5 separate regions of the Homo sapiens genome follow, and regions 1, 2, 3 and 5 are each linked to region 4. Evidence: fine-mapped expression QTL. A gene starts in region 4. Each other region holds a variant in brackets. All regions are shown on one strand. Distances are between the middles of the regions.

The links.
Region 1: its variant is fine-mapped to the expression of ZNF226 in esophagus muscle (GTEx, PIP above 0.99).
Region 2: its variant is fine-mapped to the expression of ZNF226 in whole blood (INTERVAL, PIP above 0.99).
Region 3: its variant is fine-mapped to the expression of ZNF226 in unexposed skin (GTEx, PIP above 0.99). The same link has a PIP of 0.9 or more in blood mononuclear cells and whole blood.
Region 5: its variant is fine-mapped to the expression of ZNF226 in unexposed skin (GTEx, PIP above 0.99).

The regions. Positions count from the first base shown.
Region 1 is chr19:44,367,381-44,373,811 of GRCh38, forward strand. No RefSeq gene overlaps it. Among named protein-coding and RNA genes, the nearest start is that of ZNF112, 14 kb to the left of the region's middle. The variant T/C (reference allele first, on the strand shown) is at 3,346.
Region 2 is chr19:44,073,957-44,080,387 of GRCh38, forward strand. It overlaps ZNF284 (zinc finger protein 284), which reads left to right. Exons shown (of 5, transcript NM_001037813.4): 2 at 2,366-2,448. The coding sequence starts at 2,434. Among named protein-coding and RNA genes, the nearest start is that of ZNF284, 5.0 kb to the left of the region's middle. The variant G/A (reference allele first, on the strand shown) is at 3,789.
Region 3 is chr19:44,206,259-44,212,689 of GRCh38, forward strand. ZNF227 (zinc finger protein 227) reads left to right here and starts at 6,274. Exons shown (of 6, transcript NM_182490.3): 1 at 6,274-6,327. RefSeq lists enhancers at 1,411-1,510, 1,521-1,570. The variant G/A (reference allele first, on the strand shown) is at 2,996.
Region 4 is chr19:44,161,855-44,168,285 of GRCh38, forward strand. It overlaps ZNF226 (zinc finger protein 226), which reads left to right and starts at 3,246. Exons shown (of 6, transcript NM_001032373.2): 1 at 3,246-3,288; 2 at 3,903-3,953. RefSeq lists enhancers at 2,938-3,087, 3,148-3,267.
Region 5 is chr19:44,060,702-44,067,132 of GRCh38, forward strand. It overlaps ZNF223 (zinc finger protein 223), which reads left to right. Exons shown (of 5, transcript NM_013361.6): 4 at 48-140; 5 at 5,363-6,431. Among named protein-coding and RNA genes, the nearest start is that of ZNF284, 8.2 kb to the right of the region's middle. The variant T/C (reference allele first, on the strand shown) is at 3,419.

The sequences.
Region 1 (6,431 bases), 210 kb after region 4:
TCGTTGCCTTTCTCTGGCGGAAGGCTGGCTACTACCCTTTGAATTTGGAATGTATGTCACACAGTTCTAGAGTAGAATGCAAACTCAGCACTGTCCTCTTTGAACCAAAATGTCTCCAAAAACAAGATTCTAATTTATACTTAATATTTCCCCCAGAAGCCCAATCATTAAAGCCACCTTTCCAGGAACAGAAGTGTTTTTGACACTGTGAATGCTTTGGACCAGTTTCCAGAATCCTCTTCAGGTAGTGCTTCTCACCAGCGTTTCCCTTTTTATTTTGGATAACTAGGTTCAGTCCGAATCATTCTATCTCACTGGTCAAGCTCAGCCTTCTTCTTCCTTATTCTCATTTTTTTTCTTTCACATGTGACAAAACAAATGCATTTGAACGCCCCTCCCACCCTGTCTCCCACCCAAATCCCTTTAGTAGAGAACACAGTTTGAAATGAAAAGGAGGCATAGATTATAAAGGGGAAGATATGTGTAAGCAAAAAATGCAGAACTTAGAAACTGGGCACGAATGTAAGGAATACAAGATCTCAAACCTACTTTGACTGGATTTTCTACTTTATTCCATGTGTTTTGGATGCATCTAGAACTCTTGGCAGTGTTATCTGATATATGCTATTCATTCCATGATACAAGAACCACAAGAAGGTCATGCAAAGTTTATTAAAGTATAAAGCAGAAGCAGCAAAAGCTTTTGGGTGTTCCTTGACTTTAATTGCTCATTGTAAAACGTGGCTCATGAGGCGAATGAAAGGAGGTGTGTTCATGTGAAGGAATTATTATAATATGAAAAGAGATAAATATATAAAAATTTGAAATATCTTTTTGTTCAAGTTCAAGCATCACATCACCCACTTCCACCCTATTCTTATTATCATAAATACAATGATAACTGAAGAATATGAAAACCAGTGAGACCATATTTCGTTCAAGTGAGTCGATTGAGAGTTGGACGCAAATCCAGAAAACCCAACAAATAAAAATACACGAAGGTTCTGCTTACCACTTTTCTTCTGGACAAGAACTAAACATTTTCATACCTTTATGTTATGAAAAATTTCAAACATTGATAGAAATAAAGAGTGAAGTATTCCATTGCCTCATCACCCAGATTCAGCAATTTTCAACATGTGCCACACTTCCTTTATCTATCAATATTGTCTTTCTGCCCTTTTTGTTATTGTAATTTTAAAACAAAATCATGACACTGTATTATTTCCCCCTAAACACTCCCATGCATACTTCAAAGAATTACATTTTCTAATATAACAAAAATACAACTGTCACACTGAAGAAAGTTAATAATTCCTTAATATTATTTTATGCCCTAAAAAACAAAACTTCAGAATTTCCAGTCATCTCAAAAATGTCCATCCTTTGCATGTGATCGTTTTGTCTCTTGAGTCTCTTTCAATCTGGAAGAGTATCCCCCCTTTGATCCACTTTAAATTCATGCTTTTGGCATATACAAGACATCAGGTCAGTTGTCAAGTAAGATGTCCCACATTCTGGATTTTTAAAAATGTTTCATTATGCTGTCAGTTAACATTTTCTTGAATATCTTCTGTGGCTCTGGTAAACTACAATTTAGATTTAGAAAGCAGATGAGATTAAGTTTCATCGTTTTCGGCAAGAATACTTCTCCATAGGTAGGTTTATTTTGGCCTTGTTCAGTAGCATCACCTTCTCCTTAGTGCAGATCACAGCACATTCTTGAATATTACTGTTTCCTACAGCACCTAAGATACTACACCTCAATCATGCACAAATGTCCATTAGAAGAAGAACAAGGTTAAAAGAGTTTGAGGGAAAGGGTGAAGACTTTAGGAATCAAAATTTTTTCTCTTTCAATTGCTAATCTCATCCTATTAAGCATCCATAGTCTTGCAAAGTGTGAAAGAAAAATAAATCTCGGGACCCCCAAATCACCAAGCCAGAGGGAAAAGTCAAGCTGGGAACTGTGTCAGGCAAACCTCCCATTTGATTACTTAATAAGATAGCTGTAAAGCAGAAAAAGCTACATACCTCCTTCACAATTTGTCCACAGGGGCCTGTTTGTGGGCCTGAACATCTTTATCCAAAAGCATTTCTGTTGAATTTCACCCTGGTAATGTAAATTGATAGCTTATCTTCACAGGTGTGGGATAAAGGACAGACAGAACTCAAAGTCATTCCTCTGTTCACCTGAAACAAATGCATATCTGATTGCTTCCTCTTCCCTATTGTTTATGTAGTAATGCAGATTCACTAAGCAACATTAAGACCTAAGTCACTATTCGTCTACCCACCTCTCACTTGTGAGTTTTGTATTCAGTAAAAGGCTAATCAGAGCCTCAAAATAATGCCACTGTTTGTCTCTTATCTACCTATGATATAGAAGCTCCCACTCCCATTCGAGATTGTCCTGCCTTTCTGGACTTAAGCAATGTATAACTTACACATACTGTTTGATGCCTGATTTCTCCCTAAAATGTATAAAATCAAGCTGTGCCCTGACCACTTTGGGCACATGTTGTCAGGACCTCCTAAGGCTGTGTCACAGGTGTGTACTTAACCTTGGCAAACTAAATGTTCTAAATTCATTGAGACCTGTCTCACATACTTTTGGGTTCACAAAAGTATGCTTTAGTGAACACCCATGTCCATTTGTTCTTGATCTTTAAATGAGTGTTACCATAATATAAATTCCTTGAATGGAGACCCTTGAATCTAAGAGTATGCACAGTGCATAGAGTCATATTACCAAACCTATCCCAAAACAAGTGATCTGATTGACTGAGCCAATAGTATTTGAGAGCATTTTCCCCCCAAAATAGATGCCATGAATTGAAATATCCCCTTTCATGGCATGTTTAAAATACTTCTACCATTGCACATACCGACTTATCAAAGTTATCTGGTCTCTGATCTCTGTACCTCTAAAGCAATGCTTCCCAGCCAAGGTCACATACACTGAGAAAGTGTCTCACAAATAACTTTTAAGTGATAACTGATACCAAATCTTATGTTATTTAAAAACAAAAACAGAGGCAAGTCAATATTCCTCACATAATAGCATCACTGGTGCCTGAACTGAAGTTCACTCTCTAGAGTAGGAGACCAAAAGATGATTTTAAAGCTGCTGGGCCAGGTAATATACTTAACCTGTAGCCTTTGGGACATATGCTATTGACTGGCTCACAGAGCATCCATTCATAATCCCTTTGACCCTGCATGTCTCTTCTATAAAATTATGGGGGAAAATCAAAATACTTTCTTAATGTTCCTTAAGTCTATGGTTGTCATGGGACAATATTTTGAAACAATTAGATGTAAGTGTCAGTCTTCTGTTTATAC[T/C]AGAAAGAAGAGAAAAGATTTGGTTGGTATTGAGGATATGAGATGAACAAGGGATATTGAAAATGCAGTAGGATCAATGAATTGTAGAAATTGATGAAGTCAATATGACAGTAAACCATAGGAAGATCTGGCAAGAGAATATGTAGAGCAGACTGTAATGCCTTAAATGGAGACTATGGAGGGATTGCAGCTATTGCTAATTTAAGGCCTATAGTATGACCATGGAAATGAATACCCCAAGTAGGATAGACAAAAAAGACGACCAGAGGCATGGAAGTCAGTATATATCTCTTAAATTGTAAAACATTTCATATATACATAAAACTATGAGAATAATTTTTAAACACATCCCAGATGCCCAGGTTTAACAAGTGCAAATTCACTCAATAGAATACAACACAATCATTAAAGATGAACGTTATGAAGAACGTGGGAAACAGCAAAATTAACTTATGGTATATTACTAACTGAAATACTAATTTAAAATTTACACATTATTTAATAAAAAGCACATCTCTACATAAGTATAAAATAAACCAAAATGAAAATGTTACATGAGGGTGGTGCTAGTAGGATTATAGGTAAGTCCTAACTTAGTTCTGAACTTACTTGTAATGAGGTCCTGCCACTTAAAAAAAAAAAAAAAGTTCCAGACACTTTTAAAAAGCCATATTTATTGAAGTGCAATGTACATACATTATAAAGGCTACTATTTTTAAGTGTATAGTTCAATGAGTTTTAACAAATATGTACAGACATGTAACTACCAACACAATCAAGTTGCAGAATATTTCCAACGCTTCAAAAACTTCCCAAGGAAGCGGCAATGCTGATTGGTGGGTCCAACAGAAGGGCTACGGGAGTACAGGACCCAAGAAACCATCAAACCCAATGATGCAAGACCCTGCCTCATTCCCCAGCCTGGGACTCGGGAACCTCCCGTAACACTGGAAAGCTCTACTGAGTCGAGGGAAACGCAAACATTTCCAACCCTAATCCTCCACCGGCTGCCACTTTTCCTCCTCAAGACAGAGGGCCTTGACCATCTTTGGTCCCTCACCCAGGCTGAGGAGGCGCAGAAGGGTCTCTAAGGCTCAAGTCTTGCATGCAGCATGATGGCCGCAACTTTCCCTGGAGCGGAAGTTCCTGCGACTCACTTCCCAGAGTCAGGAGTCACACCAGAGGGCCACACCCTGTAGTCCCGAAGAGGAAGTGTTGTCGACTATATGAAACGTCTGACCCACACTTCCCAGAATGTTTAAGCGGAACGACGACAAGGACTCCACCAGCCTGGGCGAAAATACTTCCGACTACAGTTCCCAGAATACCCAGCACGCTAGTGCTTCCACCTTCCTACAGCTCATTCTGTTAGTTAAGTGCGTTCAAACTGAAGGTCACTTCTGTGGCGCGATTAGTGCTTGGACTTTTTATTTTTGTAATTTTTTTTTCCTCAAGAAAAAACGAGTATGTGGAAATATAAAGAAAGTATGACTATTTGGGGATAAAAGCAAAGGCTTTAGTATGAAAAGAAACACGCTTTAGCGGAAAAGTGATGAGTATGAGAAAAAACAAGATTCTAAAAGGGAGTTGGGCTGTCCACTGGACAGAACCTTAAGGAATATGGAATCTCCAGACGTGGTTTAACTCCGTTGCCTCTTTATATGTGCCTGTAGTCATCTAGACCTCTGCTTATGCTATCTGGCATGGACAATTTATTTCAAGATGACAAGAATCCACAAGGAATTCCAAGGACAAATCAGTCTTGAAATCAAGCACAGAAAGAGCAAGTTGTATCTGAAAAATGAAGGAAGCTGTACTGGCAGGAAATTTAGAAAATATGATATGGAAAATGGCTCCTTTCTTGAAATTTTTTGAGTTCAAATCAGGCTTGGAATTGGCTATTCCTCTGTTGCCCGTTGACCTCATATATTTAACATGAACGTATCTTTTCTACAAATCAGTTTAAGCCATGTGAATTTATGGTTATTCAGGAAGAGGTGGGTAGGTTGAGATGGGAGACGGACTCCAGATAACTATAACAAGTCAAACTACAGGAAGTATGTACTTACCACTTTCCTTCTGGGCAGGAAAAAAAATTTTTAATGAAACTTTCGATATTAACACAAAAAGGCGGAGCTTGCAGTGAGCTGAGATCACGCCACTGCACTCCAGCCTGGGCGACAGAGGAGACTCCGTCTCAAAAAAAATAATAGTAATAAATAAAAAAAAAAGAAAAAAGGAAATGATAACATGAAACACCAAATGCACCTACCCTAAATTCAACACTTCCCAACATTTTGCCACACAGGCAATATCTATGACTATTGAATTTTGTTACTGAAATATTTTAAAGCAGATCCCTGGCCTTATCCCTTCCCAATACTATCTGTATCACTTAAAAATAATGATGTTTTAACATAACCACAAAACCGTTACCTTATGAGATAAAATTAACAAATCTTAGTATTATCTAATATGCATGCCAATTTGAATCTGTTTTTTGGGGGGAAAATGCTTTTACAGCTGGTTTATTCCAGTCATTATCCGAACATTTTGATCCATTGTATTTGATTGTTATCTCACCAGAAAGTCATTTACTCTAAAACTATGCCCCCACCCCGACCCTCCCACACACAGCACCACCACCACCATTTTTTATTTCCTTGAACTGTTGGGGAAATAAAAATGTCAAATTAGGTGTCTAAATTCTGGATTTGTCTAAAGCCTTCCCTATATTTTCTCCTCTGCTCTTTTAAATGTTCTGTAAAGTAGAAATTTGATGTAAAGTCTAGATTAAATGCAAGTTATTGGTTTTTGCAATACTTCATAGAAGGGACTGGAAATATTTGAAACAGAAACCATATTCTCTTCAACTAAAGTCAATTCAAATCCTCAGCAAGTTTCCCTCTGAAGAGAAAGACAAAAATAAATAACAGCAAATATGCAAAAAGAGACAGATTAAAATATGGAAACCATCATAACAAATCAGATTCTAGACTTGAGTACAATGGCTCATACCTGTAATCTCCAGCACTTTGGGAGGCTGAGGTGGGAGGACTGCTTGAGTCAAGGAGTTTGAGACCAGC
Region 2 (6,431 bases), 88 kb before region 4:
ATTTGGAAACACTGCCAAGAGGGAAATAGCTAGTGAACTTACATGTTATATCATGCTCATCCTAATTTATCTCATCGTTATCTCATTTTTTTTTTGGTAAATGTTTCCTGATATTGGCCGGGCATGGTGGCTCACGCCTGTAATCCCAGCACTTTGGGAGGCCGAGGTGGGCGGATCACCTGAGGTCGGGAGTTTGAGACCAGCCTGACCATCATGGAGAAACTCCATCTCTACTAAAAATACAAAATTAGCCAGACATGGTGACGCATGCCTGTAATCCCAGCTACTCGGGAGGCTGAGGCAGGAGAATCGCTTGAACCCGGGAGGCGGAGGTTGCAGTGAGCCAAGATTGCACCATTATACTCCAGCCTGGGCAACAAGAGCGAAACTGCATCCTCTGCCTCCCGGTCTCAAAAAAAAAAAATATTTAACGTTTTATTTTCATATCATTTGAAACCTATAGAAAAATTGCAAAAATAGTGTTAGAAATTCTCATATACTCTTTACCCAAATTTGCCAAATGTTTACATTTTTCCTGTTTGCTTTGTTCTTGCTGATCACCCAGATACCACCAGGAACATACCTGTAGCCAGAGACAGTTGCTTGTAGCTTTCTGCAGCAAAGAAGCCCACATTTCAAGATAATTGTGGGGTGTCTTGGTAAGAGGTGTTTAGAAAGGGCTGGTTATAGGGTTTCACATAACATGCTAGATACTATTAGATATTATACTGGCTAGGCATGGTGGCTTATGTCTGTAATTGTAGCACTTTGGGAGGCCGAGGCAGGTGGATCACTTGAGGCCAGGAGTTCAAGACCAGCCTGGCCAACATGGAGAAACCCCATCTCTACTAAAAATACAAAAATTAGCTGATTTGTCCACTGTGAAGTTACTTTTTTAAAATTTGAGGGGGCGTGCGCCTGTAATCCCAGCTATTAGGGAGGCTGACGCATAAGAATCATTTGAACCTGGGAGGCAGAGGCTGCAGTGAGCTGAGATGGCGCCCCTGCACTCTGATCTGGATGACAGAGTGAGACTCTGTCTCAAAAAAATAATTAAATATTATATTAAATAATATTGTTATCTATTACATATCACATCTGTTAAAAAGCTAATAATAGTAGTTGTAGTGTCATTTATTAGATAGTGTTGGATACCATATTACATAACGTTGTTATCTAATCTGCAGCTTCCATATTTAAATTTATTCAGTTTCTTCTTTTGGTCCTTATAACTATCCCTTGCCCCACTTTTTACCTGTAACCCCATTCAAAGTCCAATTTTATGCATTGTCTTTATTGTCACATTTCTATACTTTTGTTTAATCTAGAAGGATTCCACAGCCTTTGTCTTTTATATGCATGGTTTTTTGAAGAGTATAGGCAAGTTGTTTTGCAGAAAGACATTCATTTGGGGTTTGTCTGGTAAATTTCATGTTTACGTTTAGAGTATGCATGATTGGCAGGGATACCATAGTAGTGGTGAGATGTCCTTTTCATTGCAACCTAACAGTGTCCAAATGATGTTGGTTTGTCCCTTCACTGGTGATCTCAACTTTGTTCACTTGGCCAAGATGAAGTCTTTCAGATTTGTCCACTGTGAAGTTACTTTTTTTAAATTTTGAAAATAATAAAGTTCCTTATGGGGAGATACATGATTAGTGGACATTCTACTGTAAAGAAGAGTTTCCATTTCTCCCCCATTTATTCATTCCTTCATTCAACTATAAATATTCTATTGATATGGACTCAGAATTCAGTCTTACTGATTTCAATGACATGTAGATTAACAATTATTTTTTCCAATTCTATCAAGATGTATTTCACATATAGCTTTCACCCATTTCAGGCATGGAACTCCGTGATTTTTAGGAATTTTGTGAAGTGGAATAACCATGATCATGATTCAGTTTAGATCATTTTTATCTCCCAGTTGGACTCCTTGTGCCCATTTATAGTTAAACCTCATTCTCATCTCAAATGTGAAGCAACCACTAATCTACTTTCTCTATGATACATTTGCCTATTCTGAACATTTCATATAAATGCGATCACACAGTCCATGGGTTTTTGTGACTGCCTTCTTTCATTTAACATAATGTTTCCAGGGTTCATGCATGTTGTAGCATGAGTCAATATTTCATTTCTTTAAATTTCCAAGTAAGATTTCATTGTATGGATAGGCGACAATTTGTCCATTTACCCATAGGAAGGCATTTTGGTTGTGTGCAATTTTGGGTTATTATGAATAATGCCCCTGTGAACATTCAAGTGCTAATTCACAACACATGTTCATACTGTTGGGTGGCATCACTGACCACCCCTTCATGTCTCTTTTTTTTTTTTTGCCTTCCATGGCATGTTTCAGGCACAATTCTGTCTTCTCTTGAACTGCATAACTGAGAACTCTGCAAATTCCCCAAAGAAGGAGGAAAAATGACCATGTTCAAGGTGAGTAAGTCTGGTCTCTTTTGCTGTTCAGATTCTGTTTTGCTACTTAAGATTGTCACATGTTTTTCTCGGTCTTGGGAAGACTCAAGGAGAACAACAGTTATTTGTGCACCTGTTGTGTGCCAGATGCTTCCTTGTTTCTTTTGTGTTGAATTTGCGTTTGGATTTGATTTTGTTTACTTTTACCATTATTTATGTTATGAGTAGAAATTTAGTGGGAAGGAACAATTCTCCCATTTCACTACATCTTTTCTCACTAATTAGGCATTTTTATTTTCTCATGCTATTCCTCATGTATATTCATAACTGTATTTGTATTGATACTTATCTAATTTAAATTGTGTTCTTTGTGTTTAATATTATGTAATATTCATTATTTATGGTTGCATCATGTTCCCATTGAATTGATGCTCCTTTTTTTTTTTTTTTCCTCGAGACAGAGCCTTGCTCTGTTGCCCAGACTGGAGTGTGGTGGCGCAATCTCGGCTCACTGCAACCTCCGCCTCCCGGGTTCAAGCGATTCTCCTGCCCCAGCCTCTCAAGTAGCTGGGATTACAGGCGCTCACCACCACACTTGGCTAATATATGTATTTTTAGTAGAGACGGGGTTTCACCATGTTGGCCAGGCTGGTCTTGAACTCCCGGCCTCAAGTGGTCTGCCTGCCTCAGCCTCCCAAAGTGCTGGGATTACAGGTGTGCACCACTGCACCTGCCGATGTTTCTTTTTAACTACTTTATACTCACAGGCACTAGGAGCTCAGTTTTGAAAGAGTACTTTTGACATGTGCCACGTTGGTTGTTTTGTAGATAAAATATCCATATGTGGCATGGCACAGCAGGCTGTAACTGTGGCTTCACACAAGGATTTCTGGAGATTTTCACATAGGAAGAGCTAGCTTTTGTTTTCCCCATGCTTAAGTCATGCATTGTGTGTATGTTATTTACTGGTCTTTTCTTATTCCTTTATGTATTAAGGAGTTTGACCAAAATGCAGCATCCTGGGCTGCACATATATCGGTTTCGGTGAATCTTGCCAGTTGCTCCAGCAACATTTAGCAATTCAGTCTCAACTTTGTTTGATAATGCCCAGGGTTCTCGTACTTGAACCCTGGATGTAATCATTTTTCTGTCTTTTTTTTTTTTTTTTTTTTTTTTAGTTTTTTAGTTTTGGTAGCTTTAGTTTCAAATGTCCATGATATCAGAAGATTCTCTAGTCACTGTGTTCTATTCCTTTGTTTGTTCCTCAGAACAGCTGAATGATGCAGTTCTCAGCCTCATCTTCCTCTTAAATATGTGAAATATGAGAAACCTGCTGAGGTTCAGAGAGGAAACCTAGGGTC[G/A]GCATGTTAGCTATTTTGCTAAATTGAAAGAGAGAGAGAAGAAGAAAGAGGATTCTCCATTGAAGGACCTATGCCTTCTGGTATGGGTGTCTGGAGTGCCCTCTTGAGTGATGACAACCACTGGTGACATAGCTCCTCCCTGACCCCTCCTCGGGGGTCCTCTTCTCTTCCTGTTGTGCCACCTCCTCAGGTGCACCTAGTACTCCAGGCACCAAAGGACAGTGATTGCTACACTCACTATAGAAAATCTTTAAATTCCTAATGGCAAAGATGGCTTATAGAGTGTTACCAGGGAATATAACAGCCTAAGGTGAAAATATTTACCACTTTGATATCTAAAAAAGACATAATCCAAAATAAGAATCTTATGTACAGAATGGAGAAAAAAATTCAAAGGAATATGAATAAAGGACATTAATACATTAATTGGTAAATTTTAGAGAAGAAATAGAAGTGGCCAATACATATTTGAAAAGGTGATAGTATTATTTATATTCAAATACATGGGATTAATAAGGTGAATTCTCTCTAATGAGATTATCAAAATCACAGGAAATTTGATAATCTGCTTTTGGCTATTTTAAGAAAAACCAGGGTAATATATCCCCTTGAAAGATTTTGGAGTTTGAGAAAAAATTGAGATCTGACATATATGATCACAATTTTAAACATTCTTATTTTTTGACACTTTAATTTTCATTTGAAATTATTGTATTATAGTTTATTCTTATTCTTTAGAGACAGAGTTTTGCTCTGTTGCCTCGGATAGAGTACAGTGATGTAAGTGTAGCCCACTGCAGCCTTGAACCCCTGGGGTCCAGATCTTCCTGCCCCAGCCTCCCAAGTAGCTAGGACTACGGGCACGCACCACGATGCCTGGCTAGTTTTAAAAATTTATAAAGTTGGTGTCTTGCTGTGTTGCCTGGTCTGGTCTTGAACTCTTGAATTCAAGCAATCCCCCCACCTTAGCCTCTTAAAGCACTGGGATTACAGGTGTGAATCACTGCACCTGGTTTGAAATTATTAAATTAAACTAAATTATTATTTTATTTTATTTCTTTTTTGAAATAGAGTCTTGCTGTGTTGCCCAGGCTGGAGTGCAGTGGCGCAATCTTGGCTCACTACAACCTCCGCCTCCTGGGTTCAAACGATTCTTCTGTATCAGCCTCCCAAGTGTCTGGGATTATAGTCACGTGCCACCATGCTCGGCTAATTTTTGTATATTTTGTAGAGACGGAGTTTTGCTATGTTGCCAAGGCTGGTCTCGAACTCCAGAGGTCAAATGATTTGCTTGTCTCGGCCTCCAAAAGTGCTGGGATTACAGGCATGAGCCACCATACCTGGCCAAAATTATTTTCAATGATCAGACGGGAGAGTAAGGTCCACATACATGATTTTCTTTGCAGGATTGGTATTAATGAAAACTACATAAAATTAAATATTCATTATTTAGAATAAAGATAGATCATCAGTTCCCTGTAATAGTATGCAGACATGAAATGAAATAGATAACTATAATGAAAGTTATAATAAAAAATCCAAAGAAATACGAATAAAGGACATTACCAGCCAGGTGCGGTGGCTCACGCCCATATTCCCAGCACTTTGCGGGGCTGAGGTGGGCAGATCACCTGAGGTCGGGAGTTTGAGACCAGCCTGACCAACATGGAGAAACCCCATCTCCACCGGGTGTGGTGGCTCATGCCTGTAATCCCAGCACTTTGGGAGGCCAAGGCAGGCGGATCACGAGGTGAGGAGATCGAGACCATCCTGGCTAACATGATGCAACCCTGTCTCTACTAAAAATACAAAACATTAGCCGGGTGTGGTGGTGGGCGCCTGTAGTCCCAGCTACTCGGGAGGCTGAGGCAGGAGAATGGTGTGAACCCAGGAGGCGGAGCTTGCGTTAGCTGAGATTGCACCACTGCACTCCAGCCTGGGGACAGAGTGAGACTCCATCTCAAAAAAAACAAAACAAAACAAAACAAAAAACAGCAAAAAAAGAGAAACCCCATCTCTACTAAAAATACAAAACTAGCTGGGCATGGTGGCGCATGCTTGTAATCCCAGCTATTCAGGAGGCTGGGGCAGGAGAATTGCTTGAACTGGGGAGGTGGAGGTTGCCGTGAGCTGAGTTTGCGCCATTGCACTCCAGCCTGGGCAACAAGAGCGAAACTCCGTCTCAAAAAAAAGACAAAAAGGTAATAAAATTAACTAATGTTAATTAAATACCTAGTCTGTGCCACAGACTTTCCCCATTTATATTCTCTTGCTTATTCCTGGAGAAAACTGATGTGACAGTCTTTATACAGAAAGGAAACGAATGCATGTAGGCAAACTTATCCAAGGTCACGTGGCTGGGAAGGCAAAGGCACAGAGCCTTGGGATTGAGCCTTGTGAGTGAGCACACACACTCAGTGTGATCATAGGCACACTGGCTCCAGATCATGACATTCAGTGCTGCAATTAATATATGTAGTTTGCGTCTTGAATACAGAGGACCCACTCCATGGCTGTCCCACACAGGTCACTGTAAACTTGTTAGTTTGGCAGATATTAAAAAAAAAATGGGCCGGGTGTGGTGGCTCATGCCTGTAATCCCAGCGCTTTGGGAGGCCGAGGCCGGCAAATCGCCTGAGGTCG
Region 3 (6,431 bases), 44 kb after region 4:
TTAATACACCCAATCTACCAAACATCATAGCTTAGGCTAGCCTGCCTTAAAGGTGCTCATGACGTTTATATTAGCCCCCAGTTGGGCAAGGTTTTTTGTTTTGTTTTGTTTTGAGAGGGAGTCTCGCTCTCTCGCCCAGGCTGGAGTGCAATGGCTCGATCTTGGCTCACTGCAACCGCCGCCTCGCAGGTTCAGGTGATTCTCTTGCCTCAGCCTCCAGAGTAGCTGGGACTACAGGTGCGCACCACCACGCCCGACTAATTTTCATAGTTTTAGTAGAGACAGGGTTTTGCCATATTCTCCAGGGTGGTCTCAAACTCCTGACCTCAGGTGATCCAAGGGCAACGTTATCTAGCAAAAAGAAGCTTATTTCATAATAAAGTGTTGAATATCATATAATTTATTGAATAGGTATTGAAAGGGAAAAACAGAAGGGTTGTATAGGTACTGTACTGAATGTGTGTTGCTTTCACACCATCATGAAGTCGAAAAATCTTAAGTGAACCATTGTTAACTCCAGGACCTGTATATGATTTCAAGGCTTTCTATGTTTCCTTCTAATCATGTATTAAAAGCTCTCCTGTTTATCAGTGTTTTTCTCCTTATGAGTCTGTCAATCAATTTTTCTTTATAAAGTTTGCTTTACATTATGTAAGGCTGTTATAGTTGATAGAAAATTTTCATTACTATGAAGTGTTTCTTTGTATATCTTAAAATGTTCTTTTCTTCAAGGACTATTGTACTTTGTCCAATATTAATATATTTTAAAATTAGAGAAAGAATATGAGGCCTAGGACGATAGTCTCTTTCTCCATTAGAATATTTTTGTTTATGTCAGGTACCTGCAAACACTAACAGAAAAGGTTTACTTTAATCTATTTTCAGGTACGAATGTGATTTCAAGTTTTGCTTCAGTCCCCTAGTGAAGATGATCTATTTGCCCTTTATCTTTACTCCTGTAGTGCAGCTCTTTGGGTTTTACTAGGTACCCTTCTCCCGATCCCCAACTTCTTCCCCAAGGCCCTTGAACAACAGAATCGGTAGGTACCACCAAGACAGACACTTCCACTCTAAAATTGCAAATCTTGGCTAAGATTTGCTCTGGCTTTCTAGGATACCCGGAAGCTCAGGTTACTCGGAAGTATTTCCGCTCCAAGGAGCGGAACTATGGCCGGTTTCCCCTGGGGCATTCTGGGAAGTGTAGTCAGGGGCCCGCGTAGCCTGGGGCACTTCCGCTTTTGGATGGCGGAGCTAGGGAATTGTGGGAAGTGATCCGGGGTTTCTCTTTAGTTGCTGGGAAGTTTTTTCGCTCTAGGAGGGCGAAAACAAGTGTTTGGATCCGCTGGGACCCTCCAAGTTTTCTCAGCCTCGTCAGGGAGCAAGCGGGGCCCTGGCCCTCGTCTGGAGGAAGGCTAGAGAAGCTGTGGCCAGCTGGGAGGCTGGAGTTGGGAGCAGTTTGTGTTCTTTCCTCTCGGCTGAGCCTCACGTTTGGAGCAGTTCTTGCGTCCCCGGGTTGGGAGCGTCCTGGATCGGTTGTCGCTTGGTTAGAGGGTCTCCTGGCGTTCCGCAGCCAGCCTCTCCCACCTACTTGCCAGCTCTGCCACTTACTAGTGTTATAACGTTTTGTGAGTTAATCTTAATCTTTCTCTATCCCATTCTCCTCATTCCTGAAGTAGAGTCATTAGTAGGAGGTCCTTGTACTTTTATACGAATTATTCATTAAATGTCCAAAATACCGTTATGTGGTAGGTACCACTTATGTTCTAACAGAGAGACGAAGATAATAGACCTCTCCACACAATGTAGAAAAGAAAGCTGTCTTATTACTGAATAAGGACAACCACTGTATAGTATTGTAGGCAATCTAAAGAAAAATATTATTAAAAAATTCCGCCCTATGTGTACAGTCAAGCAGTTTTAAACTTTTTATACAATTCTACTTTTGACCACTATGTACATCAGTTCTCAAGATTAATGATTTTTCAATAAGAGGACTTGGTCTCATCATTTACTGCAAATTCTTTTATAAATTTATTCTAAATTTACTTGAGAATCCAGTGTTAGTTAACTAACTTTATCGAAAGTAATAAAACTTCTCTTACCTCATCTGCTAGCCGATTTACAGTTTAAAGAGAGGCACCTTGGTTAAACTCTTGCAGTGATAGGGACAGTGGGTTGTTATTTTCTCAGATGTTTATATTCAAAAGGGACAAATCTCAGAACTTTCACAAATACTTCTAGGTTGTAAACCTGGCTAGAGGCTTACATAGCCGCTAATGAAATTTACATGCGTATCAAAAGGTTAGAGAAAGGATTCAGAAGCACTAGGTTTCTTATGGAAATGCTCTAAGAAAAAGAAGAGGGAAGACGAACCCTAAAACGTACAGTTAGTAAGAGGCAGAACGTCCATATGAACCCAAGAAGTTGGAGCCTCAAGTCTGTGTTCATATTCTCCACGCTGTACATTTTTCTTAGAACCATATGAAATAATCGTGTATATGGTTTGTGGAAGTCTTTTTCTATCAGGTTTGGAAGGTGATCTGGGGCTTTAGAGTCTATATTCTCCTTATAGAAATAATGCATGACCATTATAGAGAGATTAGAAAATACAGAAATGTATAAAAGGAAATGAAAGTTACCCATATTCACTGCTGTATATTTAAACAATTAGCTGGGTGTGGTGGCACATACCGATAGTCCCAGCTACTTGGGAGGCTGAGGTGGGAGGATCGCTTGAGCTCAGGAGTTTGAAGCTGCAGTGAGCTATGACCACGGCACTGCACTCCAGCTTGGATGACAGCGAGACCCCGTTCCTTTAACCCATAATCTCAGGATTTAGAGATAACCACTGCTAACATTTTAAATGCATTTATGCATTGGTGCCATACCACCCACATGGTATTTCTCTAATTTTTCTTGTAGAAATTCCCAAACATGCACATACAGAAAATAGTGTTAATGACCCCCACCCCGCCATCATTTGTCTTTAACTCTT[G/A]TAAACATTTTGTCTATCTTATTGCATCTATTACTCTTCTCCCACATATGTTTTTGGTGGGAAGAGGAGGAATTTGACTATTTAAAATCAAAACCAAATCCTAGTCAGTCGGTAGAAATTAAAAGTAATTAACATAAAGTAATTATGAATGAAGAGCAAAGGAAAGCAAATAACTTCAGGGTTTTCTTTCCTGGCAACTAGGAGGAAGGTAGTTATGTGAAAAACCTAAAGGAGAGGGAATCATTGAGATTTGGAAAGGAATAGTTATGAATTTGGCTTCTTTATTTGGAATGTTTTACTCAGGGTCTTTTATTTATTTATTTATTTATTCATTTTTATTTATTTATTTTTGAGACGGAGTCTCGCTCTGTCGCCCAGGCTGGAGTGCAGTGGCGCGATCTCGGCTCACTGCAAGCTCCACCTCCCGGGTTCACGCCATTCTCCTGCCTCAGCCTCCTGAGTAGCTGGGACTACAGGCGCCCATCACCACACCCGGCTAATTTTTTGTATTTTTAGTAGAGACGGGGTTTCACCGTGTTAGCCAGGATGGTTTCGATTTCCTGACCTCGTGATCTGCCCACCTCGGCCTCCCAAAGTGCTGGGATTACAGGCGTGAGCCACAGAGTCCGGCCTACTCAGGGTCTTTTAGATCTGATCTGTTTCTCCCTTAGGCTGCATGTTACTTTGTTGCAGGAACTATGTCCCATTCTTTACCATGTGCTTAGCACCCAGCACAAGACTGGTAAGGAGGGGTTTAGTGTTTGTGGTTTGTGGAGCTGCCCAGTATCTTGAAATGGAAACCTGCAGATCATTTAGATTGTATTCAGAATTCCCAAAATGGATTTAGGAAAAAATAAAAGGAAATAATGTCAATATTAGTGACTCTTTATCTCACTTTTGGTGGGATGCATTTGCATAGTCTTCTAGTTTTTTTCCCAGTAATCAAAAGTTGATGCATGGTTATTGATAATATTTTAGTGATCAAAGCAAATTTTTGTAGAAACCTTCCATCCATAATTTATGTGTCCTGTGTTTATCCCCTGAGGTTAACATTTGCTAACTTTTTATAGGGTAGTCATGAATCAGGCAGAATTTCCAGTGTTTTACATGTATTTATTCATTTGTACTTGATATCAACCCTATTATAGTCTCCATTTTACAAATGAAGAAAAAGGGGACAGAAGAAATGGAAGCACTAGTATTTTAATCTAGATAGCTTTATACTAAGGCTGTAATATTAGCTACTACACACTACTTTTATTAGTCTACAAGGCAAGAACCCACAGTAAGTCTTATTAGAGCAGGGAATATTTAAGCTATGGATGAAGACCGTCACCCAGGAGGGAAAAGAGTAGCAGGTTATGACAGAAGGAACACCAAATACAAAGAATTAGAGGCTTTTTGTAGGAGTACAAGTAATCCACTATGGCTGGACATGTAGAGTGGAAAGTGGATTCCAAGAGAGAAACAGCATCTGGAAAATTCCTGTTTGTGCGACTTGTTAAAGCATTTGAACCTTCTCTTAAGGGCACTGGATAGACATGCAGGTGAAAATAATCAAATTTCCATCTTAGGAGATATACTTAACCTCTCTCTGCCTCTGGATCCCAAAGAGTAAACTAGAGGACATTATTTGTTTTAAAAAAGTTGTGAAAATGGGCTAAGTGTGGTGGCTCATGCCTGTAATCCTAGCACTTTGGGAGGCCGGGGCGGGTGGATCACCTGAGGTCAGGAATTCAAGACTAGCCTGGCCAAGATGGCAAAACCCCGTCTCTACTAAAAATACAAAAATTAGCTGGGCGTGGTGGGGAGGGGGGTGCCTATAACCCCAGCGACTTGGGAGGCTGAGGCAGGAGACTTGCTTGAACCTTGTGTGAGGGCGGAGGTTGCAATGAGCCGAGGTCATGCCACTTCACTCCAGCCTGGGCAAAAGAGCCAAACTCTGTCTAACAACAACAACAACAACAACAACAACAAAACAGAACAAAAAAAAAAAGAAAAAAGTTGTGAAAATGTAGTGAGGGTCCCATAGTCTGAATAGTTTGAACTAGTTCCTGGCACATACTTGGTTCTTTATAAGAGATAGTTGTATATAACAGAATAAAGAATATATATTTAGTAAATGAGAACTGCAAACATGTACTGTAGTAGATATGTGGATATTTTTAGGTATTGCTCTCTTCTTTCAACCCTCAATTCTTGGAAACATCAATTCCATTATACATTTAAGCAAATAAAGATCAAGGTTTAAACACTGAAGTAATAAATTTGTTCATCTTTCAAATTCAGAAACTCCTTGAGGAATGATTACAGAGGCCCTAGTTGCTTTGTGGAGTTGATCTACCATATGCCAAAGCTTGTGTTTTCTATGTCTAGCTATCCTCAGTAAGCAAGTTGTTCTGAATTATATGACTGTGCTATTAAGAAAAGTGGAAATCCATAATATATTCTGCCTTCGTTGCATTTTTTGATTGCTCTTTCATTCTTTTAGTATCTAAAGAGTAGTTTTTCTATTAGTCGATCCTGTTAAATGTAAAAACTTAAAGGGTTTCCTCTGCCCTTTTTTTTTTTTTTTTTGGAAGTGGTGGGTATAATTCTATTAGTACAGGATCACGTGATCTGTTTCTTATAATAGTTTTTTTTTTCTTTTTTTTTTTTTTGAGACAGAGTCTCACTCTGTCGCCCAGGCTGGAGTGCAGTGGCACGATCTTGGCTCACTGCACCCTCCAGGGTTCAAGCGATTCTTATGCCTCAGCCTCCCAAGTAGCTGGGACTACAGGCGCGCGCCACCACGCCCGGCTAATTTTTATATTTTTAGTAGAGACGGGGCTTCATCATATTGGCCAAGCTGGTCTGGAACTCCTGACCTCGTGATCCGCCCGCCTCGGCCTCCCAAAGTGCTGGGAGTCTTTTTTTATTTTAGGGCTCCAATTCTTCACATATTTGCTGTTACTTTTTGTTAATAAGAAAAACCTAAATTCCACTGACATCAGAGAACTGCTTCAGCCTGGCTAAACAGCAATAAGCCGTGAAGAGGATTCTGGATGTTGTAGTCCGGGAGCTCCGAGAATTTTGTCACACTCTCCGTAACCCTCTCTCACTCGCTCGCTCCGTTTTTTTTTTTGTTTTTTTTTTTTTCAAGCGCGAAGAGGGCGGCACCTGGATGGTTTTTCCTTCTGGAAGTTCTGGGAAACGTATTCCAGAACTCTGTCCGGAAACAATTGGGCCGCAGGAGCGCGGGCCTTCTGGGAAGGGTAGTTCAGGAGCTCTGGGCAGGCAGAGCCACTTCCGCCCCGGAAAGCGAGGCCGCCACCATCTTTTGGGTCCGGGAGGTGAGTCAGCCCTGCACCCCCACGACCCCTCTTGAACCTTTTCAGCCTGTGCTTGGGAATAGGCGCTCCCCAGCCATCAGTCTTGGGATGGAGAGGTCGCGGCC
Region 4 (6,431 bases):
ACGCATGTGAAGGATCTAGGTTGCAGCCAGGCGCAGTGGCTCATGCCTTTAATCTCAGCACTTTGGGAGGCTGAGGTGGGCGGATCACCTGAGGTCACGAGTTGGAAACCAGCCTGGCCAATATAGTGAAACCCCATCTGTACTAAAAATACAAAAATTAGCCAGGCATGGTGGCAGGTGCCTGTAATCCCAGCTACTTGGGAGACTGAGGCAGGAGAATCACTTGAACGCAGGAGATAGAAGTTGCAGTGAGCCGAGGTTGCGCCATTGCACTCCAGCCTGGGCAACAAGAGCGAAACTCTTTTTTTTTTTTTAAAGAAAGGATCTAAGTTGCTCGCTCCTTGTGAAAATAAAATGATAAATGTAATGTGCTTGAATCATCCCCAAACCATCCCCATCCCCCCACCTCACCTTGTGGAAAAATATTGTCTTCTGCAAAGCTGGTCCCCTGTGCCAAAAAGGTTGTGAACTGCTGGATTAAAGGGCTTTACTCAATAAATTATATCTAACTGGGGAGACTTTTTTCCACTATTGATTTTCTTCAGTATACCTTCACTGGATGCTTGCTACTCATTAAGGTCCATGCTACCTCAATGTGCATGGTATGCTGGGGATTGATAATACCACCTTCACATTCTTGTAATTCACTAGGAGGACTCAAGACACCCTATGTTATCATAGTCACTATGATTTATTGTAGTAAAAGATACCAAGTCAGTTGAGCAAAGGGAAAATGTGCATGGGATGAAGTCCAGAAGAAATCAGGTACAGGCTTCCAATAATCCACTCCCTGTAGAATCATTCATGATGTACTGTTTTTTCAGCATTGAAACATGTGAAATGTCTACCCAGTAAGCTCAATGGAGACTTAGTGCCCTAGGCACTACGTTGTGTTTTGTTTTGGAACTGGTCACATAGGCCAGCTTGGGCCAAAATTCTAGATTCCCAGAAGGAATTCAGCATAAATCACATTATACAAATAGCCGGGGCATGGTGAGCCACTCTCATCAGAGAATTGTGGAAATCCTCCTGAAATTCAAGTTCCCAGATACCAGTCAAGGGCTAACCTTATATCTTGCGCTGCTATAACAGAATACCACAGATTAGGTAATTTATAAACAATATAAATTTATCTGTCATAGTGCTTGAGGCTGGGAAGTCCAAGGTCAAGATGCTGGCAGGTTTAACATCTGGTGAGGGCTGCTGCTGTCTGCTTCCAATATGGCATCCAGTTGCTGCATCCTCTGGAGGAGACAGATGCTATGTCCTCATATGGTGGAAGTGATGAAAAAGCAAGAAGGGATTAAGTTTTAACAAGGGAACACCATCAAACTATAGCATGTTGCAAGCAGGCCTTTTAAGTACAACAGTCTCAGGCCTATGTTAACTCTTTTCTGAACAAAGGGCTTCAGAAATCCAGTACCTATATTCTTTTCTTTCTTTTTCTTTCTTTGTATCACCAGATACCACATTAGGTCATCTTCCTTCAAGGTAATTTGTAACCAAAACCAGTAGACTAAACCAAATAATTTCTTGCCCCTCTGCCCCATAACTGATAAGACTGTAGGTACAGTCTACATCTACCCTCCTCATGACCAGAGTTTTCAGGTTAGTCACAAGACAGCTGTAGAAGCTGGGAGCTATCTGGCTTTGTTTTTGGTTGGTTGTTGTTTGTTCACAGTCAAGAGGAGAGAACTGTTTCATTTGTAATATTGTATAGTTCATGTCTCCCAAAATGCATGGCTACTCTAACTCCCATTCACACACAAGATTAATTCCTTAGCTCTTACCTAGTATGCCCAGCCCTTGTGGGATCATTCAGTTTTTTCATCTGTGGGCCTAACTTGCCTGTTCATCTTTGGCCGTTGGGATTTCCCTGTCTTAGCTTTGAGTTTAGCTACATTTTAACGCTTTAGGGGATATTGTCACATAACATTTTTCTATCTTTGAAAAGATCCACAATATTATGTAATGATTACCACTATCTAATCCTAGAACTCTTTCATCTGCTCCCAAAAGAAATCCCCTACATGAGCTGGGTGTGGTGGTGCATGCCTGTAGTCTCAACTACCCAGGGGGCTGAGGCGGGAGGATCACTTGAGCCCAAGAATTTAAGGCTGCAGTGTGCTATGATCATGCCTGTGAATAGCCACTGTACTCCATTCTGGGAAACATAACAAGACGCTGTCTCTAAAAAAGTAAGAAAAAAAAAACCCTACATATTGACAGTCACTCCCCATTCCCAACTACATCTCCCCAGCCTTGGAGACAACTAATTTACTTTCTGTCTCTATGGACTTGCCTATTCTGCACATTTGATATAAATGGAATCATACCATATATGGTATCTTGTGTCTGGCTTCTTTCATTGGACATAATGTCTTCAGAGTTCATCTATGTTATAACATGAATCAATATTTTGTTCATTCACATTACTAAATAATATTGCATTATATGGCTAGACCACATTTTGTTTATCCACTCATCAGCTGATGGACATTGGGTCTTCTCCACTTTTTGACTATTATGACTAATGCTGCTATGAACTTTTTTAGAACAAGTTTTTGTGTGGATATCTTTCAGTTCTCCTGGGTATTTACTTAGGAGTGAAATTGCTGGCACATAAGCCCCAGATCGGGTGCCAGCAGATTCAGTGTCTGGTGAGGTCCCGCTTTCTAAGTCATACATGGTCCTTCTGGCTGTGTCCTCACATAACTAAAGAGGCAAAGGAGCTCCCTCAGGCCACTTATAAGAGAGCATTAATCCTATTCATGAGGGCATTGCCCTCTTGATCTGATCACGTCCCATAGGTTCCACCTCCTAATATCTTCTTGGGAGTTAGGATTTAAACATACGAATTTGGTGGGGGCCATAAACACTCAGACCATAATAATACCTAAAGAGAAGTGAGGGATTCTGGGAAATGAAAACCAGGAGCTCAAGGTAGTTGGACACTTCCACATCAGAAGGCTTGGACATTCCGGAAGTGTAGTCCAGGAGGGCGGTACTGTTCTGTTTTTCCCCCAACTCCAGCATTCTGTGATATGTAGTCCGGAGTTCCGTGTAGTCGCGCATAGCTCAGCTGCAGTAAGGCTGTAAATGTTTCCCCTGCGGAATCCTGGGAACTGTAGGTCCAATCGTTCTAGGTAGTTGTAGGCACTTCCGGCTCGAGGAAGGCAGTGCTGTGGAATTCTGGGAAGCGTAGTCCAGGTCCTCCTGATACTCGCAGGCACTTCCGCCCAGGAAGACGACGTAGCAGCCATCTTTTCCCTGGCTTTGGTGATTCAGGTCAGCTTCTCAGGAACCTTTCAAACTTCCCCGAAATGCACTTGTGGTCAGCAGCTAGCGGTCTTTTGTTTGGGGAAAAAAAGGAGTAGCGGCTAAGAGCGGAGGTTTGAGGGGCCAGGATGCTGTTTTGCGTTTCCCTGGGCGGAGCTTGTTAGAATTGGGGGCGTACTGGCTTCGGGCGGCTGGGGTGATGCTTCGTCGGGTTTGAAGGTCTCTCGGGCTGTTCGCTCCCTCATTGTGACTCCCCCACCTAATGAGCCAGCCCTACCACTTCATACAGTATCACATTGAGCGAGTTAGTTAATCCCCGTGCCTTCGTTTGCTGTTCTGAAGGAAAATAAAAGCAAAAACTTCCTAATAGAATGTTTTGAGAGAAAACGAGGTAATACAAAAAGTGTAAAACTGCCTGGCACGTGAATTACCAATACTACTGTAATTTTCCTAGAAACTCCCGTTCTGTGGCGAAATTCTGTGAGTCCATGAAGCTGGATTGTCCCTGACCTCTTTTGAGGAAGGAGAGGGTTGCTTCTAACTGGTCCTGGGAGATGCCACTGTGATGTATCCGGGATGAAGACACAATCCTGGTTACTTCATAGCCTGTTTTTCTTCCCCAGCCCTGACTTCTCAAAAAGCACTGCACAGAGGAGGAGGCAGCAGAACCCCATGTGAGTAAGACTTGTTGTTATTCTTGTTTTATTCACATAAATCAGAGAATGTGTGGGGTCATGTATTTGGGCATGAGAAGTGATTATAATTTAGCGTTAGTTGCTAAGTTCCATTCTAAGGGGTTTATACAAATGAACACCTTTCCACTATACAGTGGCTCTGTGAAGTGATACTCTTTTTCCGAGGAGACTGAGACATAAGAACATAACTTGTTTGCTCATAGCCACCTAGCTAGTAGGAGGCAGAGCTAGCATTGAAACCGAGGCAGTCTGAGTCTAGACCTGAGTCTTCTTTGGTATGTTCTGCATGAGCCATAGGCAGCTGGCTAGTATCATGTGAAAATAGGTTGGGACTTCACTGTGGGGACTTTGCTCAAGGTCTGGGCTATTCTATGACTTTTAAAAAATAGTGGCTGGGCACAGTGGCTGACGCCTGTAATCCCAGCACTTTGGGAGTCTGAGGCGGGCAGATCACTTGAGGCCAGGAGTTTGAGACCAGTCTGGCCAACATGGCGAAACCCCATCTCTACTAAAAATACAAAAATTAGCCAGGCGTGGTGGCCAACACCTGTAATCCCAGGAGTTTGGGAAGCTGGGGCAGGAGAATCGCTTGAACCCAGGAGGCGAGGCTGCAGTAAGCTGAGATCACACCGGTGCACTCCAGCCTCGGCAACTGAGCAAGACTCTGTCTCAAAAAAAGAAAAGAGTTTTTAAAAATAGTTTTCTCAATTATTAGTTTTATTTGTTTCAAATAATATAGAGGTAACACATAATCATGGAAAACACAGAAATACATTTAAAAAATGTAAATTCCCCATGACCTTAGGGTATAAAGATAACAACTATAGTTTAGTGCCTTTCTGTCAAGTTTTTCTTGTATATATTTCTGTTTATTAGGGGCTGTTTTGGGAGAGGGACTGAGTACAGTGCAACACTACTCAAACTGTGGTTCACAAAGCAGCAACATTGGCATCACCCAGGTAGAAAGGCTCATTCTTGAGCCCTACCGAAGGCCTTCTGATTTAGCATTTTTGCAGATAGGACCCAGAAATCTGCATTTCAACAAGATCCCAAGGTGAGCGAGATGCATGTTAAAGTTTGAGAAGCTCAGGAAAAGGTCTTATCTGGAAACTCAGGACTAGAAAACTGACCCTGCCAGATGTCACAGATAAAACTGAGCTGGCCATACTAGAACCCTACTCAGTCCAGTGATTTTTCTTTCCCACTAAATATTAACTGTCAAGTTTCTTTGCAAAAACCATGACATGAGTAGAAGGCAGCTGTCAAGTCTAGAGTCAAAATGGAGAAACTCAGAGTCCTGAAGATCTATTTCTCCCAGGCTTTGGGGAGTAGATTCCTTCCCATCTTTTGTACTGGAGGCCTTCTGCCTGAAGTGGGAAGATCAGCTACCTATTTATTGTTAATTAACGTTAGATATTATTGCCATAGTTGTCATCATCTCGTCATCGTTATTATTCTGATTAATGACTTTCCTAATTTCTTTAACTTTTTTTTTTTTTTTTTTTTTGAGGCAGAGTTTCACTTTTGTTGCCCAGGCTGGAGTGCAATGGCGTGATCTCGGCTCACTGCAACCTCCGCCTCCCAGGTTCAAAAGATTCTCCTGCCTCAACCTCCCAAACATCTGAGATTACAGGCACCCGCCACCACACCGGCTAATTTTTTTGTATTTTTAGTAGCGATGGGGTTCCACCATGTTTGCCAGGCTGGTCTCGAACTCCTGACCTCAGGTGATCCACCCACCTCGGCCTCCCAAAGTGTTGGGATTATGGGCATGAGCCACCGTGCCCAGCCAACTTTTTTTAAAAATATAATTTCAAACTTGTAGAAAAGCTGCAAAAATGATAACGTAAGGAAATCTCATATACTCTACACCCAGATTCACCAGTTGTTACGTTTGTTTGTTATGTTATGTTTTCCCTGTGTGCTCTGTTGATGACCATCAGCCATCACCAGGAACATACCTGTAACCAACAACAATTGTTTGTTTTAGCTTGCTGCATCCAAGGAGCCCACACATGCATGGGGTGTCTTGGTAAGAGGCAATTAGGAGGACCCTGGTTATAGGGTTTTGGTTTATGTTAGATGAGTTGGGGAGAGTTTTAGGCAATGGGTTTGTTCTGGATTGGATGCTGTGAAGAAGCAGTAGTAATTTGATCAGACTATTGTAATTTTTATGTTGGAGGTGGGGAAATAACAAGACTGGAGTTGTCACTGATAACAAAGTGGTCATGTTAGATGGAAGAGGCAATTATTTGGCTATTTTTATCAATGTAGGATGTATTTCTCTCTGTGTTACAAGCTGTTTTGTTTTTTTCTTTTTCACCATGATCACTGAGTAGACCTGTCTCATTCTTGTTGATAAATTGGAAACACCAGGTTCTGGTTGTTGCTGCTGTTGTCAAAGTAGTTTTTTGTTTTGTTTTTTTTTTTGTCTTTTTGCTTTCACAACTTTGTCAT
Region 5 (6,431 bases), 100 kb before region 4:
TATCTAGAATATGTTGGGATTAAGCATGTGACTTTTCCTGTTTACAGGGCATCAACCATTCCACCGAGATACTTTCCACTTTCTAAGGGAGGAAAAGTTTTGGATGATGGATATAGCAACCCAAAGGGAAGGGAATTCAGGTAAGAAGCACGCAACTGTGTGTCCTTGTTTGTGACTTCCATCTGTTTTACTTCTGTGCACGTCCAACTCCATTACCTTCTTCTAAATGGCCAAACATCTTTGCTGGATTATGATAACCTCCTTCCAGCTAGTGGCCCTGCTCCGTGCCTTCCCACTCTGACATCTGTTCTCCTCATGGCAGCTAAAGTGATCCTTAGGACATGGATGTCAGATTGTCATTCCTCAGCTTAAGAGCCTTTCTGTCTTCTTAATTTTATGAAAGCCTCTTTAAGTTGCTTCTAGAAACCCCTGTGGTCTACTCTTCATTTTTCACTGCTTCTTGACTACATCTCCCATACTCTCCCTCATTCTCCATCTTTTCTGGCCACCTTGTCATCCCTCTTATTTCTCCATCCTGCCAAGGACACTGTATCACCTGTTGCTGGTACCCAATGACCACGAACTTAGATGATTAAATAAGAAGCATTTATTATTTCTCTGTTCTTTAGGCCTGAAGTCTGACACATCTCACTGGGAAAAAATCAAGCTGTCTTAGGGCTTTGTTCCTTTCTGGATGTTCATGGGGAGAAGGCTTCACTTTGTTTTACCAGTCCCTAGACACTGTCCACACTCCGTGGCTCTAGTTTCCATTCCTCCATCTTTGAAGGCAGCTACATTGCATCCTTGACCATTCTTCCAGAGTCATGCTCCCTCTGCCACTCTTCTTATGCCTATGTCTTTCACCTTTCAGGTCCCTTGTGGTTGTATTCATCACTCCTGTATGATCCAAGTTGACTTTCCTACTTTCTGCTTAGCTGATTAGTGACTTCAATGACATCTGCAGCCTTAATCTGCCTTGCTGTGTAATGTGTCAGAATCATAGGTCCTGAAGGCTGGATGTGGACATCTTTCAGGAACAATTATGTTCCCTACCACAGAAGCTTCTGCCTCAGGGCCCTCACTTGCTTTTCTCTCTGACTGGAGTCCTCTGTTCCCACAAAACTTACTGACCCCCTCTGTTAGTTTATGCAGGTGTCTGCTGAGTTTTAATGTCATGGAAGAGGTCATCTTCAAGCACCCTATTGAAAATACCATCCTATCTTTACTTGGCCTGCAAGTATTATGTGTCATATGCTTTTGTTTACTGATAGATCACCTGTTCCCTTTCAAATATAATCTCTACAAGGTGTTTATCTGTTTGTTTATGACTGCATCTTCAGTGCCTAGAATAGTCCTAGTACATGGAGGGATCTGTAAATATTTGGTATCCTGATGAATGAATTAATGGATGGGGGGACTTCACTGTCTGTAGGAATCATGGAGCTAGCTAATAAGTAATACATGAACCAGAGTGTATGAAATATATTAGTCCCTTGGAAGCCATAGGGGTTTGATTTCAGGACCCCACATGGATACCGAAAGCCAGAGATGTTCAAGTTCCTGATATATGTGAAGTCTTTGCCTATAACCTATGTACATCCTCCCATATACTTTAAATCATGTCTAGACCAGTTATAATACCAAATGCAATGCCTACCTGTCACTTCATTCACAAGGATTCAACATAGGACTCAGTGTGTGAGAAATTCCAGTTTTGCTCTTTGGAACTGGAATTTTTTTCCCTAAATATTTTTTATGTCCTGTTGGTTGAATCCATGGATGCCAAACCCATGGATATGGAGGGCTGATTATATATTGCAGAACAGATTTTTTTTTTCTCTGTGGATGGCTGCTTATCCATTTTCAACTTTCTTAGGTTTCCTTGACATGATTGGTTTTATGTGTGTGCAGTTGACCCATGTCCTGTGGAAACTTCTAAGCATAGCATTTTTTTTTTCATGACCACACTGAGTAATATGCCTTCCCTGGGACCTACCCTGGAGCTTTCCATAGGGAGCATATTTATATCTGAGAAGAAAGTCTTTTTGAATGAGGATTTGCAGCTAGCTTTCCTTTGAGAGATTTACCCATCTGCAGCCCATTTGCCTTTTCCAAAGTCGGCCCACACTTCACTGCCTCCAGTTCCTCCTTCCTTCCCTTAGAGGGGGAAGAATGAGGATGAGAGGACACAAGTTATGTAGCTGAATGTTGACTCTGTTTCTGGTCATCTTTCTTCAAAAATGTGCGTATTTCCCTTTTCTTTACATTATGCAAATTTAATTGTCAAAAAGTTAAAGGACAGGCTTTTTGTTTATTTTTATAGATTTAGTGCTATATTTTGAACTAGTAAGCTTTATGACCTGGAAGGAATTGGGGAATTACTTACTCAAAATAGAAACATCCTGAGACCCCTTCCCATCTCCTTAAAGACCTCTTATTTATAAGTCACAGTGTATTAAATATATCCATGTACCTATTAGACAGGATTGTTCCCTTGACCATCTTTGCGGGCAGGAACTTCAGGGTTTGTTTCACTCAGCCCACCGCTGTCGATTCCTTGCAGGAGGGAGTGTGCAAGCGAGCAAGTGCAGGAACCGGAGCAAATGAATGCTGGAATTGGCTGGTCGCTCCTCTCTGGCGAGAGCAGGCTCTGTTATGCACGCCCCACAGCAGTGTCCAAGCATGTTACAACCCATGCTGTTTCAGCTCTGCCATCTGGGGATGGCCAAGTGCCAATCAGCTCAGTGGAGCATCAGGGTAGCAGCCCCTGCCCTCTTGGCACCTGGGTTCTTGTCCAGCATCCAGGAAGAACCAGGTCACATGAACTGTGTGAAAGGTGATGAACGCAGAAGACTTTATTGAGTGGTGAGTGGTTCTCAGCAGAAAAGGAGGCTGGAAAGGGGCTGGGAAGGGGATCAACATGTTCCTGAAGCCAGGCCATTTGTGGCTGGGCCCCTCTCCAAAGCAGCACCTTCTGAAGTTAGCCACATCTATCCATACTTTCCGACACTCAGTTGCTTCTCTGCTCACCGCTCAGCGACTTGTATCCTTGCCACTCAGCTGCTTGTGTTGCTCTGCCAGCTGAAATCTTTTATGGTCACAGGATAGTGGCAGGCAGGCCAAAAAAAGCAACATTGGGGCAGAAAAATGGGGTCATCTGTTTTCACTTAGGGCTGAGGTTCTAGGCTTAAGGGTGGAGTTTGGCTAGGTATACTGATGGGTACCCACTTACCTATTAATATTTTCCAAGTTTCAACCTTTGGAACTTAACTCTCCATCAGAAAAATTTACCTAATTCAGGACTTGGTAATATCCTGACAAAGTTTTGAACATTTTGTGAGCATGAACCATAATAAGAAACACCTCTTTCAGTATAACCTGGACAGTTTTCATGCATGTAGGTGTATGTGAGTGACTT[T/C]AGCTGACATTTCATGTAACGACACCTTTCCTGCTTGTCTCCACACTGTGATAATTTTCATTCTGGCTCCTTTCTATAAATGTCTATTGAAGGTTTTAACTTTATTTCAGCTCACTGATGTGTAGTCTTGAATATAAAAACAGTTAAAAAGGCCTGTTTATCTACATCATAGGCTTTCTTTTCATTCCAAGTGATTCTTCACATCATTGATTGTCTGATGAAGAGCATCCTCCTTTGTGGACCTCTGGAAGGACAGCCTTTCAGATTCCCCTCAGAACTGCAGTTGTCTGTCTCTGTACTCTTTCAGATAACCAACTTATCATCCATATCAAAACAGAAAAATAAGATTAAGTATTTTATATGTGTCATGCAAAATTCTTGTATAGGAATACTTTCGATTTGTAGATATAAACATTCTAAGGTGTTTGATGTTTAGTATCATGAAGGGTTAAACTAAAAAGTTTAATGGGACATTTTACAGAGAACTGCTCTCACTTCACTCCAAGTGCAAATTCGGCAGTTTTTCAAAACTACCTTCACATTCAATAATTTCCTAGAAAGACCCTCAGAACTCACTGGATGTATTTATTCTCACAGTTACTGATTTTTACAAGCAAAAGATGCATATTATAGTTAACCAAGGGGGAAAAACCAAATAAGACAGAGTCCAGTGAAGTACCAAATGTGGATCTCCTATTGTATTCTCACAGTAGAGTCGGGCATGTTACATACCCAAAATTAGCATGTGACTTAGACACAAGGAACCACCAATCAGGGAAACTCAACTGAGTGCTGGGATCCAAGTAATTATTGGGGCTCCATTACATAGCCATAATTGGTTGGTTGATTCCTGTGTGGTTATTTAGTCTTTTGGTCCACTGGTTCCCTGTGACCTAAAGACCTACATTAAATCACATCGTTATTTTTTCTGACATGGGGAATGCCACCTGCCATTTCCCATCCCCCAAAGCTGTGGCTAGTCACAACCCTAAATTATATTATTTCACTGTCAAGAGTTACCCAAGATTTGCCCCCAAGCAAACAGAGAGACTCTCCTCAGGCATGCCCCTTCAAGATTCTACAGATTACCTCTCAGATACTGAGGACAAAGTCCTGACCTCTTTTTAGTTAGGTTAACTCCTTTTCTTATTTTTAAAAATGTTTTTTAAGCCATCTTAAACTGAAAGGAAGGTTAACTTCTTTATAAGGATATATAATATACAGGCAAATATACGAAGTATTTATTATGTTACTGCTTTCCCTTAGAGTTCCTTTTGATTCATATTTCATTACGTACATAATAGTTTAGTAATTTATCATGTAAAATTTCAGACTGAGTTGGAAATTTTAAAAACAGTAACAGGTTAAATGTATGTGTCATATTAATTTTTTATTAAACCTTTTATTTCTATCAATGATTTTTTATTTGAAATGTGGTATGTTTTTTTCTTTCTTTTCTTTTTTTTTTTTTTTTTTGAGGCAGAGTCTCACTGTGTCGCCCAGGCTGGAGTGCAGTGGCACGATCTCGGCTTGCTGCAACCTGCGCCTCCTGGGTTCAAGCAATTCTCCTGCCTCAGCCTCCCAAGTATCTGGGATTATAGGTGTGTGCCACCACACCTAGCTGATTTTTGTATTTTTAATAGAGACGGGGTTTCACTATGTTGGTCAGGCTGGTCCCGAATTCCTGACCTCAAGTGATCTGCCTGCCTCAGCTTCCCAAAGTGCCTTGGTCTCCCAAAGTGCTGGGATTATGGGTGTGAGCCACCGTCCCCAGTGACATGGTATGGTTTTAGATTACTCTCATGCAAACCAGAAACCAGGGTGCACTTGGAAAACACAAACTGAACATTCGTTGAAGTTTCATACCATGTCCTAAGTGTGAACTCTTAAAAACACTGAACAGGGCATAGCTTGTCCTGATCTCTTAATTTTGTATTCTGATAGGAGGCAAGATCCAACCTGAGATGAAGACTTTTCCAGAAGCAGGACCACATGAAGGGTGGTCCTGCCAGCAGATCTGGGAAGAAATTGCAAGTGATTTAACCAGGCCTCAAGACTCTACCATAAAGAGCTCTCAGTTCTTTGAACAGGGTGATGCCCACTCCCAGGTTGAGGAAGGACTATCTATAATGCACACAGGACAGAAACCTTCCAATTGTGGGAAGTGTAAACAATCCTTCAGTGATATGTCCATCTTTGATCTTCCTCAGCAAATACGCTCAGCAGAGAAGTCTCATTCCTGTGATGAGTGTGGAAAAAGCTTCTGTTACATCTCAGCGCTTCATATTCATCAGAGAGTCCACCTGGGAGAGAAACTCTTTAAGTGTGACGTGTGTGGTAAGGAATTCAGTCAGAGTTTACATCTGCAAACTCATCAGAGAGTCCATACTGGAGAGAAACCTTTCAAATGTGAACAATGTGGGAGAGGCTTCAGATGTAGATCAGCACTTACAGTTCATTGCAAATTACACATGGGAGAGAAACATTATAATTGTGAGGCATGTGGGAGGGCCTTCATTCATGATTTCCAGCTTCAGAAACATCAGAGAATTCACACAGGGGAGAAGCCATTCAAATGTGAGATATGTAGTGTGAGCTTCCGTCTTAGGTCAAGTCTTAATAGGCATTGTGTGGTCCACACAGGAAAGAAACCAAACAGCACTGGGGAATATGGAAAAGGCTTCATTCGTAGGCTGGATTTGTGTAAGCATCAGACGATCCACACAGGAGAGAAACCATATAATTGTAAAGAATGTGGGAAGAGCTTCAGACGGTCCTCCTATCTTTTGATCCATCAGCGAGTCCACACTGGAGAAAAGCCATACAAATGTGACAAGTGTGGGAAGAGCTACATTACTAAGTCAGGTCTTGACTTGCACCATAGAGCCCACACAGGAGAGAGACCTTATAACTGTGATGACTGTGGGAAGAGCTTTAGACAGGCCTCAAGTATTTTGAATCATAAGAGACTCCATTGCCGAAAAAAACCATTCAAATGTGAGGATTGTGGAAA